Homo sapiens: one gene and its partners. The protein of the gene in region 1 purifies or fractionates together with the protein of each later gene. This does not show direct contact. Each region holds a gene or a part of one and is shown in the gene's direction. Other genes may lie near its edges.

Region 1 (5,105 bases):
ATGGGAGCTACAATTCAAGATGAGATTTGGGTGGAGACACAGCCAAACCATATCACGAACGAAAGCTCCAAACTGCAAACTGGTGTCTCCTGGTCACTGAGAATCTTACTCCCTTCCCTACTTAAAACTCTTGACATTCTCTAAAAGCCTGGATTAAAAGCCCCCTCCCCTGGGAAGCCTGCTCTGATTGCTGGACCTCAAAGCGCTCCCTCCCTTCTCTGAAGCTACCGTGTGCTCTGAGCCTCTCCCATACCAGGCTTGTCCTGTTTGAACTGGTCACCTCCAGGTGCTGTAGGAAGACTTTCCTGGGCTCATCAGTGCTTATGACTCAATCTCCAGTAGTTTTTTTTTTGGAATAGAAGGGGCTCTGGAAGTATTTCTTTAATTAATAATAACTTAATTTCCTAAGTGGAACCCTTATTTCTCTCCTTTTATACCCTTTTTATGTGTTTTTTTGTGACCATAGTGCCCCCTTGTGGAGAAATGTTCACAGGACAGGCTGTGGCTGTGCTAATCCGCTGTGCCCAGTTTTCTGGACTGTTGAAAATATGTGCTTGAGATCCATTTTATGATTTACGATAGAACAAAACCCCTGTGTCATATATATCAAGAATAACACACACTATTGGAGTTAAAATTCTGAGCTCATGATCATCCAAGGACAAGGCAGTTTGCTTTTTAACTCCAGGTCTTTGCCTTCCGCCCTCGTGTGGTGGGCAATTCTCTCCGAGGGTAAGAAGGTCAGGACTATAATCAAATGTCCTTTGCCTCCTCAGCGCCCTTCCTTCTTATTGCTGTCCCCTCTGCCTGGAGTCCCCTTACCCTTCTTTTGTGCCTCTCAAACTCTCTGCCCTTTTAGACTCAGCACCCATCTTACCTATTCCTTATAAAACTTCCTGTAACCAGACCAGCCTGGAGAGTCATGCCTCTGAATCCCCAGAGTAAGCATTGCCAGCACAGTTAAACCAACACATGACGTGCTGCCTTGGAGTGCTTTTTGTGAATATTTCTGGCATTTAAAAATAAAATATTTATCTTTAGAATTCCATGTATGGATGGCCTATCTTGGCTGCTGGATTGGAGGGCCTTGGTCCACTAATGCGGTTTGTCGTGGAAACTAGGCTCCACTGACCCAGCCCACAGCTCCCCTGGCTGCAGTGCTTCGTAAATACTTCAGCAAAAATCAAAGAGGAATGAGGCTGCTGGTCCTGCTCCTGATGTGTCCGTATCTGGCTAGGGGAGACATGCACATACTCAGTGACTTAAGGCTCTTGATCCATATAACTTCAGGCAGGCACTAAGGGATCTGATATAATCTGAAGTAATGAACAATGCCCCCATCTGTCCCCCTCCCCACTTTCACCCACCCCATTCACTTTGTGCACCCCACCCCCCACCACCAGTCAAAGTGGGATCATCAGGGAGCCTCCCTGAGCGAGGCGAGTTTCCATGACATTTTTACAAGTGAGAGGAGAGGGAAATCTCATCTCAGGGGAATCAACTGGCATATCAAAGCCAGAGAGAGGGAACGCCAAGGTGTGTGGGTATCACTTGGCAGAGCAGGGCTGGGGGAGAACAGAAGGCTGCCATCACTGATGTGGGTGACATCGTTAGGTGCGAGGGCTCCTGGGAAATCTCTACACACGTGTCAGGGGCAGGGCCCAGAGATGCTCATGGGAATTTGTGCTTTGTCCCCTAGGATTCTTGGGATGAGCTTCTTATTGGTGACGTGGAACTGAAAAGGGTGATGGCTTGTTCCAGGTAAGGTGCTTTCCTGTCCCTGTGGGGTGGAGGTGGGGATAAGTTCGCTCTGCTCTGTCCCCCTTATGATGCTCTGTGTGTGTGTCCAGATGCATTTTAACCACAGTGGACCCAGACACCGGTGTCATGAGCAGGAAGGAACCGCTGGAAACACTGAAGAGGTAGGACTGGGCAGACGGGGCTCATCCTCGGGTTTAGGTGCCGGGAACGGAAGCAATATTTGTTGCTTAATGTTTATAAGAGGAAGCAGTGAAAACACCACACACATAGTCTTGAAACTCAAGAGGGTCCCATTAACGAGATAATTTGGGAAACATTCCCTGGTGTTTTGGACACCAACATGTCTGCTTAAACAAGTACTTTTATTTTTCATTTAGAAATCATAATTCAAATAAATCAATGTTTAAAAATTGCTTATGCATTTTGACAAATTTTATTACGGGCTAAGTATTAGATGATACCAAAAAATGTACTAGGTGTCCTAATGGCATTGTGGTTGTATAAGAAATGTCAATATATTTTAGAGAAGCTGATTGAAATATGTGTGTAGGAGTGAAGTGATGTGACATCTGGAACTTGCCATATATTATTTTAGCAAAAAGAAAAAAAGGATAAATGAGTACATTTTAAAAATGTGTCACAATCTTCATAAATAGAATCTGGGTGATAATTACGTGGGGTTTATTGCACTATTCTACTTTTATGTTTACTTTAAAATTTCTTAAGGAAAAATTTTAGGTGAAAGACACAGTACCGAGAATCATTTTAAATTGTATATAAAGATAGTCAAGATGCTGTGTTGATTTTACAAAGTTGATTATAAAATAGCACTATTTACTTTTTCATTTTTATTTGATTTTACTTTTTAAAAAACATATAAATGCACATGAGTAGATAAAAGGCTGAAAGGATATAAAACAAAATGGAGATACTCTTTTGGTATAGTCATAGAATTATGGAAAAGGGTTATTCTCATATGCAGTCTCTAAACTTTCTATAATTACTCTGCATTACTTTCGTGAAAACAACAATAACAGTTTAGCATACAAGCACTTCAGAGCTGATATCTGCCAAATTTGGGACCCAGGAAATTGCTGAAACTCTGAAAATGAACTAAGGGTGCTTCTCTTCATTGGTCCCTTTGACATTGAATGCTGAGTCACAGGCCAGGTGTCAGGTCTCTTCTCTACAGCCCCTGAGACCCTTCCTTGGCTTTGTGTAAGACCCTTCCTTGGCTTTGGTCCTGACTTGGCCTCCCCAGGTGTATCTTGTAGAAGGGAGGGCCCTGGGAACCTTGAGGAAGGAATGCAGTTGAGATGTGACTATCTTGTATCCAAACCATCATGAACGAGCGCATGACAGAGAGGTTGCTCTAGGCTTTGTGGAGCAGGACTCATTCCCTGTAACGTGAGGTTGTCTGCCTCCCCTTCCTTCCACCTCTCACCAACCTCATGGCCTTTTTGGGGGCCAATGATTCAGTCATCTTTGATCAACAACCAATCCCTCCCTGACAATTCTACTGTCCCAGATCTGGCCCCATCTCTGGGCAAGCTGAAGCCCTGGGCTGGAGGGCTGTCATCCCCGCTGTCACCTCACCCCTGAGCATGAGGCTGTGGCCTGACCTCTCTGGCCAGCACCTGTCATCCTATAGGAGATAAGTCCCAGAGTGTGGGCCAGGCTGCAGCAAGGTTAGCAGGTGGCCATGAGGGCCTAGGCCACCTGGCAGAGAGACAGTGGTCAGCAGGGAAGTCAAACAGGGTGGGTGGAGGGAATTACGGAGAAGGGGGTTTGTGGTACTCAAGGAATCCTTAGGTGGATAGCAAGCAGCTGGTCTCTACCTGGCTCCAACAGCGTTGGGTGTGATTTGCATCAACATTCAAAGAGGGGGCTACAGACCAGCCTAAGGGAATCCCAACATTTTGAGAGATGTTTCTCAATACTCAAAACATTAACAACTTTTCTGTAAAAAGCTAATATTGTGGAGCATTTAAGATTGGTATATTTCATTCCATGTAACTTTCACCTCAAAAAAAAAAGCAAATAATGGTTTTTACTCTAGGTAATAATATTCAAGCTGAACTGTTCAGAGTTGAAATGTACTGGTGTCTGCAACTTACTTGGAAATGCAAAAAGACAATACAGTGGATTGATGGATAGATACATGTGTGATAAAGAAAACATAGTCAAGGGCAGGCACGATGGCTCATGCCTGTAATCCCAGCACTTTGGGAGGCTGAGGCTGGTGGATAACTTGAGGTCAGGAGTTCGAGACCAGCCTGGCCAACATAGTGAAACTCTGTTTCTACTAAAAATACAAAACTTAGCTGGGCATGGTGGTGGTCACTTGTATTTGCAGCTACTCGGGTGGCTGAGGTAGGAGAATCCTTTGAATCCGAGAGGTGGAGGTTGTAGTGAGCTGAGATTGTGCCACTGCACTCCAATTTGGATGACAGAGTGAGACTCTGTCTCACAAAAACAAACAAACAAACAAAAAAACAAATATATATAGTCAAGTGTTAAGCTCAGAATTCAAGCAGCGGGTAAATGGGTGTTTGCTGTAAAATTATTTCACCATTTGCCTGCTTGAGAATTTTCATAGTAAAATTTTGGGGGGAAATGTCACTATATGTGACAGAACATTGATGAGAGGACCAGGGTTATAGCTATTCTTTGAAATGCGCTCACTCACCATCAGAACAAACCAGAATTCAGTCTTCCTGTTTTCCATGGCCACAGAGGAGCTACTAGGGGCAGAAAGCAGGGTGGGCCAGCGGGAAGATCCCGGGCTGGGAGTCAGGAGACCTGGATGTGCAGCACACCGACTGCTGTGCTCCTACCCCTGCCCGCACTCAGACCCTGAGTGTTCTTCCCTATAAAATAAAGGAGGCAGGACAGAAATAGATGATTCTGTGTAAATCAGCCAAGTGGTTTGGGGAATTGGCTGTCATCCTTTTTTGTCCATCTTGTTCTTTCTCTTCCCCCTGTGTGTTGCTCGGTGTGGGGCATCCTTCCCTCTGGATTTAGAAGGTTTATGCTCTTGCAGAAACAGCCTCCGCAAAGCACTTCACGTGTTTGGGCTTGTTCTCTGCATCTTCAGTGCCCCCCTTCCTCCATTGGGAGCCTGTGTTTATAGAAGGAGGATAATTGACCCTAAACACAGAGTGAGGGTGGGAAGGCGGGGGGCGCAAGGAGCCAGCACACCCCCCTGATCTTCCGCAGGCTTTGTGAAGCCCAACAATCTGGCCCTAATTGCTTCTAATACCCCAGGAGACAGTGCGGCCAGCCTAGGTGTCTTCTCCTATCTCTTACTGAGATTTAAATTGCCATGGATGTGTAATTTATGT
Region 2 (5,105 bases), on another chromosome or scaffold:
AGTGACTGATGAGGGGGGTCGGCCTGAGGAGGGGATGGAGACCATAGAGCAGGAAGTGACTGATGGGGGGGGTCGGCCTGAGGAGGGGATGGAGTCCATAGAGCAGGAAGTGACTGATGGGGGGGGGTCGGCCTGAGGGGGGATGGAGTCCATAGAGCAGGAAGTGACTGATGGGGGGGGTCAGCCTGAGGGGGGATGGAGACCATAGAGCAGGAAGTGACTGATGGGGGGGGTCGGCCTGAGGGGGGATGGAGACCATAGAGCAGGAAGTGACTGATTGGGGGGGTCAGCCTGAGGGGGAGATGGAGACCATAGAGCAGGAAGTGACTGATCGGGGGGGTCGGCCTGAGGGGGGGATGGAGACCATAGAGCAGGAAGTGACTGATCGGGGGGGTCAGCCTGAGGGGGAGATGGAGACCATAGAGCAGGAAGTGACTGATCGGGGAGGTCGGCCTGAGGGGGGGATGGAGTCCATAGAGCAGGAAGTGACTGATGGGGGGGGTCGGCCTGAGGGGGGATGGAGACCATAGAGCAGGAAGTGACTGATGGGGGGGGGTCGGCCTGAGGGGAGATGGAGACCATAGAGCAGGAAGTGACTGATTGGGGGGGGTCAGCCTGAGGGGGAGATGGAGACCATAGAGCAGGAAGTGACTGATTGGGGGGGTCAGCCTGAGGGGGAGATGGAGACCATAGAGCAGGAAGTGACTGATGGGGGGCGGTCGGCCTGAGGGGGGATGGAGACCATAGAGCAGGAAGTGACTGATTGGGGGGGGTCAGCCTGATGAGGAGATGGAGACCATAGAGCAGGAAGTGACTGATGGGGGGGGTCAGCCTGAGGGGGAGATGGAGACCATAGAGCAGGAAGTGACTGATTGGGGGGGTCAGCCTGAGGGGGAGATGGAGACCATAGAGCAGGAAGTGACTGATTGGGGGGGGTCAGCCTGAGGGGGAGATGGAGACCATAGAGCAGGAAGTGACTGATGGGGGGGGTCAGCCTGAGGGGGAGATGGAGACCATAGAGCAGGAAGTGACTGATTGGGGGGGTCAGCCTGAGGGGGAGATGGAGACCATAGAGCAGGAAGTGACTGATGGGGGGGTCGGCCTGAAGGGGGATGGAGACCATAGAGCAGGAAATGACTGATGAGGGGGTTGGCCTGAGGGGGGATGGAGACCATAGAGCAGGAAGTGACTGATGGGGGGGTCGGCCTGAAGGGGGATGGAGACCATAGAGCAGGAAGTGACTGATTGGGGGGGTCGGCCTGAGGGGGGATGGAGACCATAGAGCAGGAAGTGACTGATGGGGGGGTCGGCCTGAAGGGGGATGGAGACCATAGAGCAGGAAGTGACTGATGGGGGGGTCGGCCTGAAGGGGGATTGAGACCATAGAGCAGGAAATGACTGATGAGGGGGTCGGCCTGAGGGGGGATGGAGACCATAGAGCAGGAAATGACTGATGGGGTGGGGGGGTCAGCCTGAGGAGGGGATGGAGACATACAGCAGGAAGTGACTGATGGGGTCGGCCTGAGGGGGGGATGGAGACCATAGAGCAGGAAATGACTGATGCGGGGGTCGGCCTGAGGGGGGGATGGAGACCATAGAGCAGGAAATGACTGATGCGGGGGTCGGCCTGAGGGGGGATGGAGACCATAGAGCAGGAAGTGACTGATGGGTCTGCCTGAGGGGTGGGGTGAAGACGGAGGTGGAGGAGTGAGTGAGACAAACAGACCCAGGAGGCTTCTCCAGCAGCCCAGGAGACAGGCAGCGAGGACCCAAGGGAATGCTAGTGGAAACAGGAAGGAAGAACTGACCCAGCAGAGGAAACCAGCAACAGCCTGGGGCGTGGGGACTTTGTCCTCAGAGAGATCTGGGTCCAAATCCCACCCTCCCTGCCTGTTAGCTGGGTGACATTGACCAAGGTGCTTAACCTCTCTGAGCTTCAGTTGCCTCAACCGGATATGAGACAATTTAGGATCTATTTTCCAGGGTGGTTGTGAGGATCAGGGAAGTTAATGAATGTAAAGGGCTTGATTAGGGGTCTGCCAGCTGTCATGTTGATCTTGAGCTGTAATATTAGCAGTACTGGGTGACTCAGTAGGTGGGGGAGGGGTGGAGGAGCTGGAGGAGTCACAGACAAAAGTAAAATCATTAACAAAGAGGAGGAGCAGGCTTGGGCAGCTTGGAAACTTGACGTGTTGGTTGTGGTTAGGGTGAGTCAGGGACCCGTGGGACATTCAGGTGGAAGCGAGACAGGAGATGGGATGAGGAGAGAGAGCCGTGACTCCCAAGGAGAACTGAGGGGCCACTGGTGCGGAGGCGATCTTGGGGATGTTACAGGAAAGTTGCTGTCACCCAACCAGCGGGCATGCCTCCGTGAGTTTATTCAGAACATTGGCTGAGGATTCCAGATGGCAACTAGGTCCACCACTCTCAACACTCATTAAAGCTGTAATCCAGGGGCTGTGCACTTTCACAGGTCATGTTTCATTAAACTTTTTTGGATAGTAGCGTCAAATGTCATTGTTTTATTTTTAGGTAGAGAAAGGGCTGTATGCATTTTAAGTCATGGGATATTGTCCGTTATGAATCAAACACAAAACGGCTGCAAAATTCACAAACATGAAGAAGATGAGGACACCTAAGAGTTAAGTGTACTTTGAGAGGAGCAGGATTAGGCCAGGACATTGGGGGCCACTTGTATCTGGGGGCAGGTGAAAGAAAGGTGTCAGGGAAGATGCAGGAGATGCCTGGGTATCACTAATGCTGAGGGAGAGGTGAGCCTCAAGGAGTACTGGCAGTACTCATATCGTAGCGAGCCTGAGGAGAGTGAAGACTGGGGGTGAGGTCCTTGGTGTACCACCCTGGAGACCCTGGAGACTGCGTGGTCAGGACAGCTGAGGGCTGGGACCCAGTGTGGTATGGAAGGGAGATGGAGAGGATAGAGCGCGCGCGCGCGCGTGTGTGTGTGTGTGTGTGTGTGCGTGCTCTGTCACCCAGGCTGGAGTGCCGTGGCATGATCCGGCTCATTGCAACCTCTGCCTCCTGGGTTCAAGAGATTTTCCTGCCTCAGCCTCCCGAGTAGCTGGGACTACAGGTGCCCGCCACCACACCCGGCTAATCTTTGTATTACAGGATAGAGTTCTTGGAAGCCTGGCGTGGAGGGAGGGAGAGCAGGTAGCACAGTTACAGAAGGATCTTCGGGATATGGAAATGCGGTATTTGTGGACACTCATTCATCTAACACACATTTGTTGAGCTCCTAATGTGTATAGAACTGAAGGGATGGAGTCATGGGCAGTGGAAAAGCTGAAATTGTGTAAAAGAGAGAGAAGGATCAGTGGCTATGGTCTCGAAGATGACGTGGAAGTGTCAGCCATGACGGGTGGGGAGTGGCCTGCTGCTCCTCCTGGGAAGAGAAGAAGGTGAAGACTCAGGGCGCGTCTGCAGGGAGACAGTGGGAGCTGTGGGGTCGTGGATGACGCTGATCCTGTCATTAGCATCTGAGCGAGGTCACAGGTGAGACCTAGAGCAGGGAGACACCCGCAAGGCTTTGGTGGAGAGTGGGAGTGAGCTCTTCATGGACACTCTGTTAACCAGCAATTTCCTTTCCCTAATAAATGCCCTTAATTCTCCATAATTGAAGGAGAAGGCACCAGAGGGCAGTGAATGAAGCTTTAATTTGGGTAACACGGAAGGAAAGCAGCTAGAGACCAATTACTCTGTCATTTACACAAACTCATTTCCATGATTAACTTGGAAAATAAAGCAGCGCCGAGTTCCCACAGGCAGGGGAGGGCCCCAGGATGGGAGCTCTGCTCTGAGGCTGTGCCTTGGGAAGGAGCACGGGGCTATCGGCCCGGGAGACCAAACACTGAGGGTTTCCACAACAAAGAGGCAGGGCCCAGCTCTGTCCTGAGGCTCTGACCCATCCAGCCTTTGCACCCCAACAAACTGAACTCAGAGAGGTCCCTGCAAAACACAGCTGCCTCCTCGTGCCCACCTCCCCTGTGATTTCCCTGGCTTCTGGCAAGAGAAGAGAAGACGTGAGCAAAAGCTCAAGGGCAGAGATGAGTAAACAGGAACGGGGCGTGAAACTCAAACTCAGGGTGTGGGGATGGGATGGGGTGGAGTGGAGTGGAAGTGGGAATTTGAGGTGAGGTGAGACTGAAGGCCGGGGGACACGGCAGGCTGGGTCATGATGGGCCCAGAGACTCGAGCCAGGCAGATGTGACGTGAGGACTGGACATTCTAGACGCAAGGGAGGGCTGCAGTCAGCACTTTAGGCCTCTTTACCTCCTGTCGTTCCTGAGTGACTCTAGAAAGTTTCTTGAGAGCACTGGGCGAGAGGCTGGGAAGTCACAGGAAAGAAGCAGAGAGGAGGCTGGCCTGCAGGCTGATGGGCAATGTCTGGGCCAAGCCCATGTGGTAAATGCACATCTATCCCTCTCCTGTCCAGGCATGTGGGGCCTCGTTAACAATGCCGGCATCTCAACGTTCGGGGAGGTGGAGTTCACCAGCCTGGAGACCTACAAGCAGGTGGCAGAAGTGAACCTTTGGGGCACAGTGCGGATGACGAAATCCTTTCTCCCCCTCATCCGAAGGGCCAAAGGTGAGTGGGAAAGGGAGCTCCCTCCTGCCCCTGAACCTGCCCCACGTGTTCATCTTTGCTCAGAATGGAAATACCTGTCCCAGCAGCTCCAATGTCCACAACTCAGCAGAGGTGAGCTCGTGAATCCCAGGGACTATGCTGGGCCTGGGGTGATGGTGGGCAGAGGGGCTGTGGCCGGGTAGGGGAGGAGGAAGCAGAGCAGGTAAGAGGTCAGTGGTCCATGCAGCAAAAGCTTAAAGAGTTGAGCAGCCATCCACTCTGCACACCTAATCTATAGAGAGAATCACCCTTTGCACAAAGCTGTGTGTACACATCTTTGTATCAGTCAGGTGTGGTTAGTAAAATCTGGCATATTCATTCTATGGGTTATTTATATCGTAGTTTAAAAAATGAGATCATTGTGGTATTAGGGAACAATAGTAAAAATCAAGATTAGAAATTTGGAAAACCAACAAAACACCCAAACCATGTGGGTGGCCAAATGTGAGCAAACCACTTT
Region 3 (4,519 bases), on another chromosome or scaffold:
GCTGTCCTGAGCCACTGAGCCCGCGAGCAGCACCCCTGAAGTGACTCAGGGACAGGAGTTTCTCCAGCCCATGAGATTTTACTCCCCAGACCCTACTTCACTGGCGTCTGGAGGGTGGTCTTTGAGAAGATCTATATGTGATCCTTTTGTTTTGTTTTGTTTTTGTTTTTGCCACTCTGTCGCTCCAGCAGCATCACATCTGGACATACCTACCTTAAAAAGCTGAACTTCTTTTCTTTGAGATGGAGTCTGTGTCTGTCACTCAGTTTGGAGTGCAGTGGCGCGACCTTGGCTTACTGCAACTTCTTCCTCCTGGGTTCAAGTGATTCTCCTGCCTCGGTTCCCCCCCCAACCCCCTGGGTAGCTGGGATTACAGGCACGTGCCAGCACGCCTGGCTACTGTTTGTTTTTAGTTGAGGTCCAGCACATATAGAAAGTGCACACATCCTGGCCAGGCTAGTGGCTCATGCCTGTAATCCCAGCACTTCTGGAGGCTGAGGCGGGCGGATCACAAGGTCAGGAGATCAAGACCATCCTGGCTAACACGGTGAAACTCTGTCTCTACTAAACATACAAAAAATTAGCCGGGCGTGGTGGCGGGTGCCTGTAGTCCCAGCTACTCGGGAGGCTGAGGCAGGAGAATGGCGTGAATCCGGGAGGCGGAGCTTGCAGTGAGCCAAGATCGCGTCACTGCACTCCAGCCTGGGCAACGGAATGAGACTCCGTCTCAAAAAAGAAAAAAGAAGGAAAGTGCACACATCCTAGGTGTACAAGTCGTCGCAAAACACATGCGTGGCGAGCTGCCACCCAGGAGAAACAGAACATGGCCAGCCCTCTGGAAGTCTTCCCTCCTGCTCCTATCAACTCCTCCCTCCCCTTCTGAGGCTTCCACTGGCCTAACTTCCTCCTTTTTTTTTGAGACACGGTCTTGCTCTGTCACCCTAGGTGGAGTGCAGTGGTGCAATCATAGCCCACTGCAGCCTTGATTTCCCAGGCTCAAGCAATCCTCCCACCGCAGCCTCTCAAGTAGCTGAAACTACAGGCACACACCACCATGCCTAGCTCATGTTTTTTTTGAAGTTATTAGTAGAGATGGGGTCTTGATATGTTGCCCAGCTGGTCTCAAACTACTGGGCTCAAGTGATCCTCCTGCCTTGGCCTCCCAAAGTGCTGGGATGACAGGCCTGGCCCACTGTCCTCACTTCCAACACCACGGGTCCCTTTTGCCTGGTTGAATATAATTGCAGCTGTACCCTAGGATCATCAGGGGCCACCCGAGTCTGTGTCAGTCCGTACTGTCACATGGCCACAGACTATCTCATGGCTGGGACAGTCACAGTTTATTCCCCCAGGCCCTTGGGACTGAAAGAATCCAAGATCTGGATCTCCTCTATAGCGCCCAGAACCACAGCCACCGTCCTGAAGCACACGGCCTTCACACGTTTCTACACGAAGGGAGTTTTCTGTCCTGCTTCCTTGGACACAGCAATAATCAGGGAGCAGTTGTCTTGACCTATGATGAGGGGGTGACCGGCCATCCCTGGGCATGGGATGGGGAGTGTGGGTGGGGGCTGGCTGTGGGGGCTCCGCGCCTGGATGTGATGTTGAAATTTTGTGTTGCTTTAACCGCCTTTACTTTCTGAGCTAGGGGCTGTCTCCATCCATAGCAAAAGTGTAACTTTGTTGTAGATGGGCGTAAGCCTCACCCTGGAGAGCGCTAGTAAGTACAGACCAGGTGAACCAGATCCCAGCCTGGACCCCACCCTGTCATGCCCATCTCCCCAACCCCAGAGTTCCCTCCGTAGCAGGGGACAGGGAGGGTGTGAGGCAAGCTTGGGCTCAGCACAGGTCCTGGGGTGGGGGCTCGGGCTGGCCAAAAAAAATCAGCCCCCTCTGGATTGGGGGTCCTCATGTGGGGGTCTCTCGGCCCTATGGGGAGCTGGGAGCTTCCTAAACTTGTGTCCAAATGACTAGTTTCCCAGGGGTGGGTCCGTTCCCATCAATCCTCAAAGGAGAGCCTGGCACCCCAAGATTTTAAGAGCCTGAGCTATAAATGACAAGACTTGGGACACTGGGCCACAGTTCCTCTCCCAGAGAGCAAGGGCTCGTCACAGACTGAGGGGTACTGAGGGGTCAGAAACAAAGTGGGGAGAGGCCTCTGCCCACATTGGTGGGAGAAGCTGAGTTGACCTAAGCCTGACATTCCCCAGCCGGCTGGACTTGGGCATTCACCAGTGTCTGTGATCTGCAAAGACTTCACAACACTACCCAGGTGGCACTGAGTATCCAACCTGGGAAGGGACAGCTCCATGTCACATCAGTTCTACTCACACAGCCCTCTTAGTGCCAGTGTTGGGGCTGCAGGAGGAACAGAGATCCCCCCAGAGGCCCCAGAACATTGAAGGGAGAGCAGCAAACCTCGCATCAAGGTGTTGGCCAAGAACTGGGCCTCCAGGGTGGGAGGGTGCTTCGGGCCAATCTTGAAGCATTGGCTTCCAGCTGTTGAGGTCCTGGGGGTACTGAGATGGTACTTGTTTCCTAACAAAACATTTTTTATAAGTGCATTCACCAATAGAGGGCCCACCTATTCTGGTGGAGAGAATTGGAAAAGGTTCCAGAATCCGGGCAGAAGCCTGGCTGTTCCCGGTGAGGGCTCTCCCTTGCTAGCACTCCCTCCCACCCTCACTCTGAGCAACACAGCTGCTCATGTCCCTGGAGAGGACAGCTTTGGCCAAGTTGTTAAACATCTCTGAGCCTGTCTTCCCATCTTGGAAATGGGGGCAGTTGTCCCAATGCCGAGATAATTGAGTGTGAAGCCCTCCCCTGTCCCATGCTGCCTAGTACCGAAGGCACTTGCTCTGTGGCCCTGGCTGTAAGAATGATCATTTCTGAGTCAGACCTAGGGAACCAGCCCCTGAGAATGTGACTTGACCTAGTTTACTCCCACCGCCCGCTCTGCAACTCTGAGCCTCCTATTGAGCAAAGATAAGCTCATAGGCAACAAAGAGCACTTTGACATGGAAGAGGTTCTGGGCCACTGGGCTCGGAGGCAGCGGGGCCTGACCAGCGCCCCAGGCCCCAGAGCTGCTGACGTGGGTCCCCAAGGAGGTTGTTGGCTGTTCTCTTGCCACCACTCTATTAACTCATAACTGCTGTTCTCACGAGAGGCTACTGGCAGAGACCAGGCAGGAGCTCCTGGAGCCAAGGTCATTGCTTTTATTTTTATTTATTTATTTATTGAGATGGAATGTTCCTTTCTCGCCCAGGCTGGAGTGCAGTGGCATGACCTCACTGCATCCTCTGCCTCACGGGTTCAAGCAATTCTCCCACCTCAGCCTCCTGAGTAGCAGGGATTACAGGCGTATGCCACCACACTAGGCTAATTTTTTTTACAGACACGATTTCGCCACGTTGGCCAGGCTGGTCTTGAACTCCTGACCTCAAGTGATCCACCCACCTCAGCCTCCCAAAGTGTTGGGATTACAGGCGTGAGCCACTGCACCTGGCCAGGCTCATCACTTTTTGCGCCTATTGCCTCGAAGCCAGTCTCTGATGGGACATTAGGGCAGGGGCCCTTCAGCCTAGTCTGGGACATGGGCCGCTCACTCAGCAGTATGACAAGCATCACCTGGAGAACGGGCCAGTCTCAGGAGGTCGTTCATGCCCCACTGGCAGTGCACTGTGCAGCCATAGTGTAAACAAGAGGCTTAACCTGAATTGGTCTGAGATCTTGGGGACCCCCTACCCTGTCTCCAGCAGCCTGTCCCTTTAGCTGTTTGCCTACTGGCACCCCATCCTGAGAAGGCATAGATACCCGGCCCACCCTGCCCTGGAATTACAAAAGTCTTAGACTGTGCCTGAGTGCCCGGCCTCCTTGGGAGACCCTCCTAGGCAGCCTAAGCACCAGACCCGGGAGCTGGGTGCTCTGGTCCTGCCTGCCTGCCTCTCACTGGACCCTCTCCTTCCAGGTACGGCTTCAGGTCCAGAGCGTGGAGAAGCCTCAGTACCGCGGGACGTTGCACTGCTTCAAGTCCATCATCAAGCAAGAGAGCGTGAGTGGCCTGGGCTGGTGGGGCTCGGGAGGCACAGGATGGGGAACTAGCTTCCGGGCTGCCACCACCCCAGACCAGAGAGCCAGGAAGGAAGGTGTCAGGACGACCAGGAGGCCAGTCAGGACCTAGGTTCTAACGAAATTCTGCTTGGTCCTCAGGAGCCCCTGGGGTGGGCTGGGGCTGCCATCCCCCGACCCCCTTCCGCGTGGAGGGCCCGGGAGGTGCGCGTTGCCGGCTCTGATGGCGTCTCTGTCCCCGCAGGTGCTGGGCCTGTACAAGGGCCTGGGCTCGCCGCTCATGGGGCTCACCTTCATCAACGCGCTGGTGTTCGGGGTGCAGGGCAACACCCTCCGGGCCCTGGGCCACGACTCGCCCCTCAACCAGTTCCTGGCAGGTGCGGCGGCGGGCGCCATCCAGTGCGTCATCTGCTGCCCCATGGAGCTGGCCAAGACGCGGCTGCAGCTGCA
Region 4 (5,105 bases), on another chromosome or scaffold:
CAAGGGGATGGGTGTGGAATCACTAACTCTGAGTACATATGCACAAGAAAAGTATATTGCTGAACAAAGTTGAGCTACCAGCAAGAAAGAAATTTGGGGATAGGTTTGGGAATAATAAGTAGCATTTGTTGAGAGCTTACTATATACTATGCACCCTTGTAAGCACTTTACATGAATCAGCTCATTTAATACTCACAACTAATACTATACTCTGGTAGATAGTTCAGGTTTCAACCCAGATCTGACACCAATGCCTGTTTCCTTAACCATAGTCTACCTCAGTATCAAGTGATAGCTTGATTATAGATTTCAGCAGAACAGTGTCAGCATGCTGACGTTTTAAAGTTCACCGTGTGTACATCCTAAATGAACATTTTTGCTTTTTTTAAAAAAATGAAATCAGACATAGTAATAACCGCATTGTAGACTAGCATTTCTGTGACAGCCTATCATTTTAGAACAATTAAGGACACCAAAATTCTTGACTACGTGTAAGGGTGGCAGGACTATTTAAGAGAGTTAGAGTATATATTGACTTCTCCTATCTGTAAATTTCTAAGGTGATGTACTCTTAAATATACCTTCTTGTTGTTGTCTTGAGCTTAATTTGCCTTTTACGACAAAATGTGTAAATTCCCAAAGTATCGTTGTGTGTGTGTGTGTGTGTGTGTGTGTGTGTGTGTATGTATTCTTTTGCTAGGCTGTAAATGGAATGGTAATTTCTTTTGGCTCTTCTCCCAAGATGGCAAAGTAAAGTGAACTTCATGTAGAATTTTAATTTTATAGTTTAATACCAAGAAGGACAGTATTCCAAGCTGAAATCTCTTCTAAAATGTTTGGTTTATTTCATTCAAAGGAAATGCATTCTACACCATATGCTATCTAAAAATTCTGGCTAACCTCTTTTCTAATGTGCCATTGGATACTAAGTAGAAGTATAATAATATAGAATCAGCAGATTCTATGAACAAGATGGGGTATATGGGTGATTCATTTTTTTGGTAGGCAGTACATTTACTATAGCTAGTGATCTGCTTGATATCTTTCTGTTACTGTATAAATCAAGGACTTTATTATATGAAACATTCCTAGGGAAAAATTAGGATCAGCAAATGTATAATTCAGGAGAGATTTCTTGGGAATATATTAGCCCTGGTTTTTGGAGGGGAACAAATCTGTTAAACTATAAAAGCTATACCACTAACTTCTTCAGGAAAGTGCATACATACACAATTTTATATATAATTCTGAGTCCAGAGGACTCAGATCTCCCTGTAATTTGTCTGTAAATACCACCTAGTCTAGAGACTATTTCCATAAACATTTTGGTCATTTCCTAGCTTTTTTTTGGATAATAGCCATCCTAATAGATATTAAGTAATACTAGTACAGATTTTTTTGTTGTTGTTTTCCAGTGTTCCATCAGGTAGAATCTCAGCTCTCATAATTCTTTGATGGTCTAATGGCATTTTTATCTACTACTGTCTAGTACTTGTGTATTTATCTTCTCATCTAAATTTTAATCCTTTTGAGGTCGAGAATCTGGTTTGGTCTAGGGCTAGGATAACAAGTGTTCAGTAGGCATTTGTTGAATGCCTGATTTGGCTTTTAGCTTTGGAAGTGAATAGTATGAGCACTGAAGGTAAAACATTTGCCAGTGATTTTAATGAGAGGTTGGTTTTCAAGTATGAAATGTAGTTAGAATAGAGATCAAGAATTAGTGTACTTTAGTCATGAGAACACTGCTGAATAAGGTAAAGGAGAGAGTAAAAAGGGAACCTTCAAGTTTAGGCTGGGAAGGTGAAAGGAACCTGTGAATGCATCTCTCATTACTCCAAGAAGGAACTGTGATATTCTACAATATTGTGACATCTTACAATGTAATAGGATATTGTGATACATCTAGCCAGCTATCTGGATGCCTCCAGAATATACCCTCTTAATTGTTTCTATGCTGCCCATCAAAAATAAATAACTAACATTTTTGAGACTTATTCTTTGCCAAGTCCCATGTGTTACCTTCTTTCTTTCTTTCTATTTTTTTAGATGGAGCCTTACTCTGTCGCCCAGACTGGAGTGCAGTGGGGCGGTCTCGGCTCACTGCAACCTCTGCCTCCCGGTTTCAGGCCTCCCAAGTAGCTGGGACTATAGGCATGTGCCACCAAGCCTAATTTTTGTATTTTTAGTAAAGACGGGCTTTCACCATGTTGTCCAGGCTGGTCTTGAACTTCTGACCTAATGTGATCCACCCGCCTCAGCCTCCCAAAGTGCTGGGATTACAGGCATGAGCCACTGCTCCCGGCCTACCTTATTTCTTTACAAAAATCTATTTATGGCACCATTTTAGAGAAGAGGAAACAGACATAGATAGAATAAATAACTTGTAGGTGGTGGATCTGAAATTAGAGCCTAGGCAGTTTGATTCCAGTACCTATTCTCTAAATCACTGTGGTATTCTGCTTCTCCTTGAGTTTTTTTAAATTAAATATTTAAATAATAAAATATTTCATTTAGCACAATAGTACATGCATATAGTTTAAATAGTACTGAAAGGCTTGTAACAGTACAGTGGATCTCTGCCCCATCTCACCCAACTTTCCCAGTCTTCCTTAGAAGTAACTAGTTTTGTCTCTTAACTTTCTTCTGGCATTTGCCCATCTCTCTGTTTCTATTTTAGCCGTTTTCTGTGGATGACTGCCGGTCAGTGCCGCCCTCTGTTTTCCCTCCCCAGTGAAATTATTTTGTAATTCTTGGTCAAATATTCAGTGTTTACATTAAACAAATATTATGCACAATTGAGGATTGTCCCATATTTTGTTTGTTAGCTTTCTTTTTGCTGCAGTTATTGCTGCCCTTTAAATTTTTAGTTAGTTTTTTCTGTGATAATTTCTAATTTATCTCACGGTATGTAATAGCTTCTCCACACAGTTTTCTGTAATGTCAGCCACATCAGATACTTTCTCACTTAACTTATTTTTGCAGTTTTTATATATCCTCAGCTATGTAGATTGAACTTCAAGCTCTTCTTTTTGCCCTCTGCAGAGAAAACAAGCTTCAGTCTTCTGTTGAATGAGGGTAGGGTTGTTACCTACCACTGGATTAAGAGAGGGGATCCAGGTATCTAGCTACTTTTCAAACAGCAGCCACCCAAATCCTCCCTGGCTTAGGATACAGCTTTCTAGGGTCTCTTTAATTGATTATTACGTATCTATTTACTTTTCTGCTTCCAAAATTGTATGCTGTTATTCCTTTTCTCTGTGTCCTTGTGGGTTTCTGCTTAAAATTAACAAAAGCAAACAGCACATTTTTAAACTTAGTGTTAGTTAAGTTTGAAAGAGGAAGTAAGATTGGATAAATTTATTGTAGACATGTATGAAAATGTAGGTTATCAGAAATAAAAGAAATAAAAAGCCCTTATAGTAATATCACTAGCTAGAATGACTACTATTGTCATTTTGGAGTATTTCATTTCAATCTTTGTATGTGTACAAGCTGGGCAGGTAGTAATTGGATGATGCCATATACAGGTTTGAGCATCTCTAATCTGAAAATCTGACATCCAAAGCTTTTTGAGCACTGACATGATGCTCAGAGGTGATGCTCAAAGGAATGTTCATTGTAGCATTTGGGATTTTGGACTTTGAGATTAGGGATGCTCAACCAGTAAGAATAATGAATGCAAATATTCCAAAATCTGAAAAAATCTGAAATTAAGAACTCTTATAGTCCCAAACATTTCTGATAAGGCATACTCAACCTATATATTGCTTATGGGTTATCTTTTTTATGTTTGTTAGCATGCCAAGACCTGTAAATGCTGTTTTCACACAAACTGTTGTGCATTCATTTTCTGTTGTGGTCCATTGACATTTTCAGTCTATTTTTACTCCAGTACCACACCAAAATAACTATTTGAACAAAGAAGACTTATATGACAAACGATCCTTTAAAACAAAAAATACTATAACTGCCTTTATTCCAAGTGTTAATATTACTCTGTGCCTAGTGCTGATTTTTAAATTACTTTTACTTTATTCTGCCTTATTTCATCCAGCCTGCAGATGGCAGAATTGTTTCATTTGAACAGCAATTTTGAAGGCTCCGTTTTATTTAGTGTGTTCTGACATTGGAATGAGAAGTGATTAAATGAACAGTCTCTCTCCCTATTAGAGAAGAAGCAAATTAATGTTAGAGACAGGGAGCCACACTAAGAAAGTACTGGATAATTTACTTTTTCATTTGGTCTATCTTCATTTCATGATTTTTGCATGCTTGGATTATAAATGAACTAGAGCCTATAAATGAACTAGAGCATGATGTTTAAGCTGTACCATATGTAAACTGCTGAATTCCCTTAATTACTTTAGTCAGAGTAATGGAGCTTAAATCTGCTTCATATTAACCATAAAGCAGTTTGTTCTGCATTTGTATTTTAAGAGTTTGCTTGTATTAAATTTTTTTTTTAATCTAGAGACCTTTTAGCATTCATGAATCAATCATCAATTTAAAGCTTTGATATAATTGAGTTTGCTGAAGTATGAGCATTTTGTTCTTAGGATAAAAGAAATACTTTAGGGAAGAAGAAACTAGAATTAGATTAGTGTACCATATTTGAAATTGAAGTCAGAATTATGCTGTAGAAAAATTGGAAGAGCCCATTTGAGGAAATACAGGAATTGCTTAGAGGGATTACTGTAAAATTCAGTGATTGGTAAATTGCTCATGTAGCAGAAATGGCAGGGAAAACAGCAATAAGCTAAGCAAAAAATTTTAATGTATTGTGTCATTCTGTTGATGTAAAAAAAGAGTAAAATAGTTATGAGTCATGAGACTTTACTTTTAAAATCAGCAAGTTTAAATATAAAGTACTGGACCACATACATTACAATAGTCATTTAAAAATTTTTAAAAATGTTTTGTAACTGCTGTGGAAGGGTAGACTTCACAAGCCAATTAGATATAATTTGCTAGCTTTATAAGAAGGAGCAGAACACTGAAGTGACTACAAAACGTTAAATTTTAACTAAATTTTGAGAACTTTGTGAATACTAATTGAAAAACTTGTGTAATGAGTGCAGCAAACTACTTACCTGTAGTTGTGGGAA

Evidence for each region.
Region 2: the proteins of MTARC1 (region 1) and BDH1 purify together in Homo sapiens (affinity purification with mass spectrometry, with the first as the bait; one large-scale study listed by BioGRID). This does not show direct contact.
Region 3: the proteins of MTARC1 (region 1) and SLC25A29 purify together in Homo sapiens (affinity purification with mass spectrometry, with the first as the bait; one large-scale study listed by BioGRID). This does not show direct contact.
Region 4: the proteins of MTARC1 (region 1) and PDHX fractionate together in Homo sapiens (co-fractionation; one large-scale study listed by BioGRID). This does not show direct contact.

The regions. Positions count from the first base shown.
Region 1 is NC_000001.11:220,803,353-220,808,457, forward strand, and holds part of MTARC1 (mitochondrial amidoxime-reducing component 1 precursor), read left to right. Parts: intron 1-1,699; coding exon 1,700-1,761; intron 1,762-1,850; coding exon 1,851-1,922; intron 1,923-5,105. UniProt on the Homo sapiens protein: Catalyzes the reduction of N-oxygenated molecules, acting as a counterpart of cytochrome P450 and flavin-containing monooxygenases in metabolic cycles.
Region 2 is NC_000003.12:197,513,765-197,518,869, reverse strand, and holds part of BDH1 (D-beta-hydroxybutyrate dehydrogenase, mitochondrial precursor), read left to right. Parts: intron 1-4,453; coding exon 4,454-4,606; intron 4,607-5,105.
Region 3 is NC_000014.9:100,292,827-100,297,345, reverse strand, and holds part of SLC25A29 (mitochondrial basic amino acids transporter), read left to right. Parts: exon of another isoform or gene 1-1,720; intron 1,721-3,968; coding exon 3,969-4,052; intron 4,053-4,313; coding exon 4,314-4,519. UniProt on the Homo sapiens protein: Mitochondrial transporter of arginine, lysine, homoarginine, methylarginine and, to a much lesser extent, ornithine and histidine. Does not transport carnitine nor acylcarnitines. Functions by both counter-exchange and uniport mechanisms.
Region 4 is NC_000011.10:34,922,217-34,927,321, forward strand, and holds part of PDHX (pyruvate dehydrogenase protein X component, mitochondrial isoform 1 precursor), read left to right. Parts: intron 1-5,105.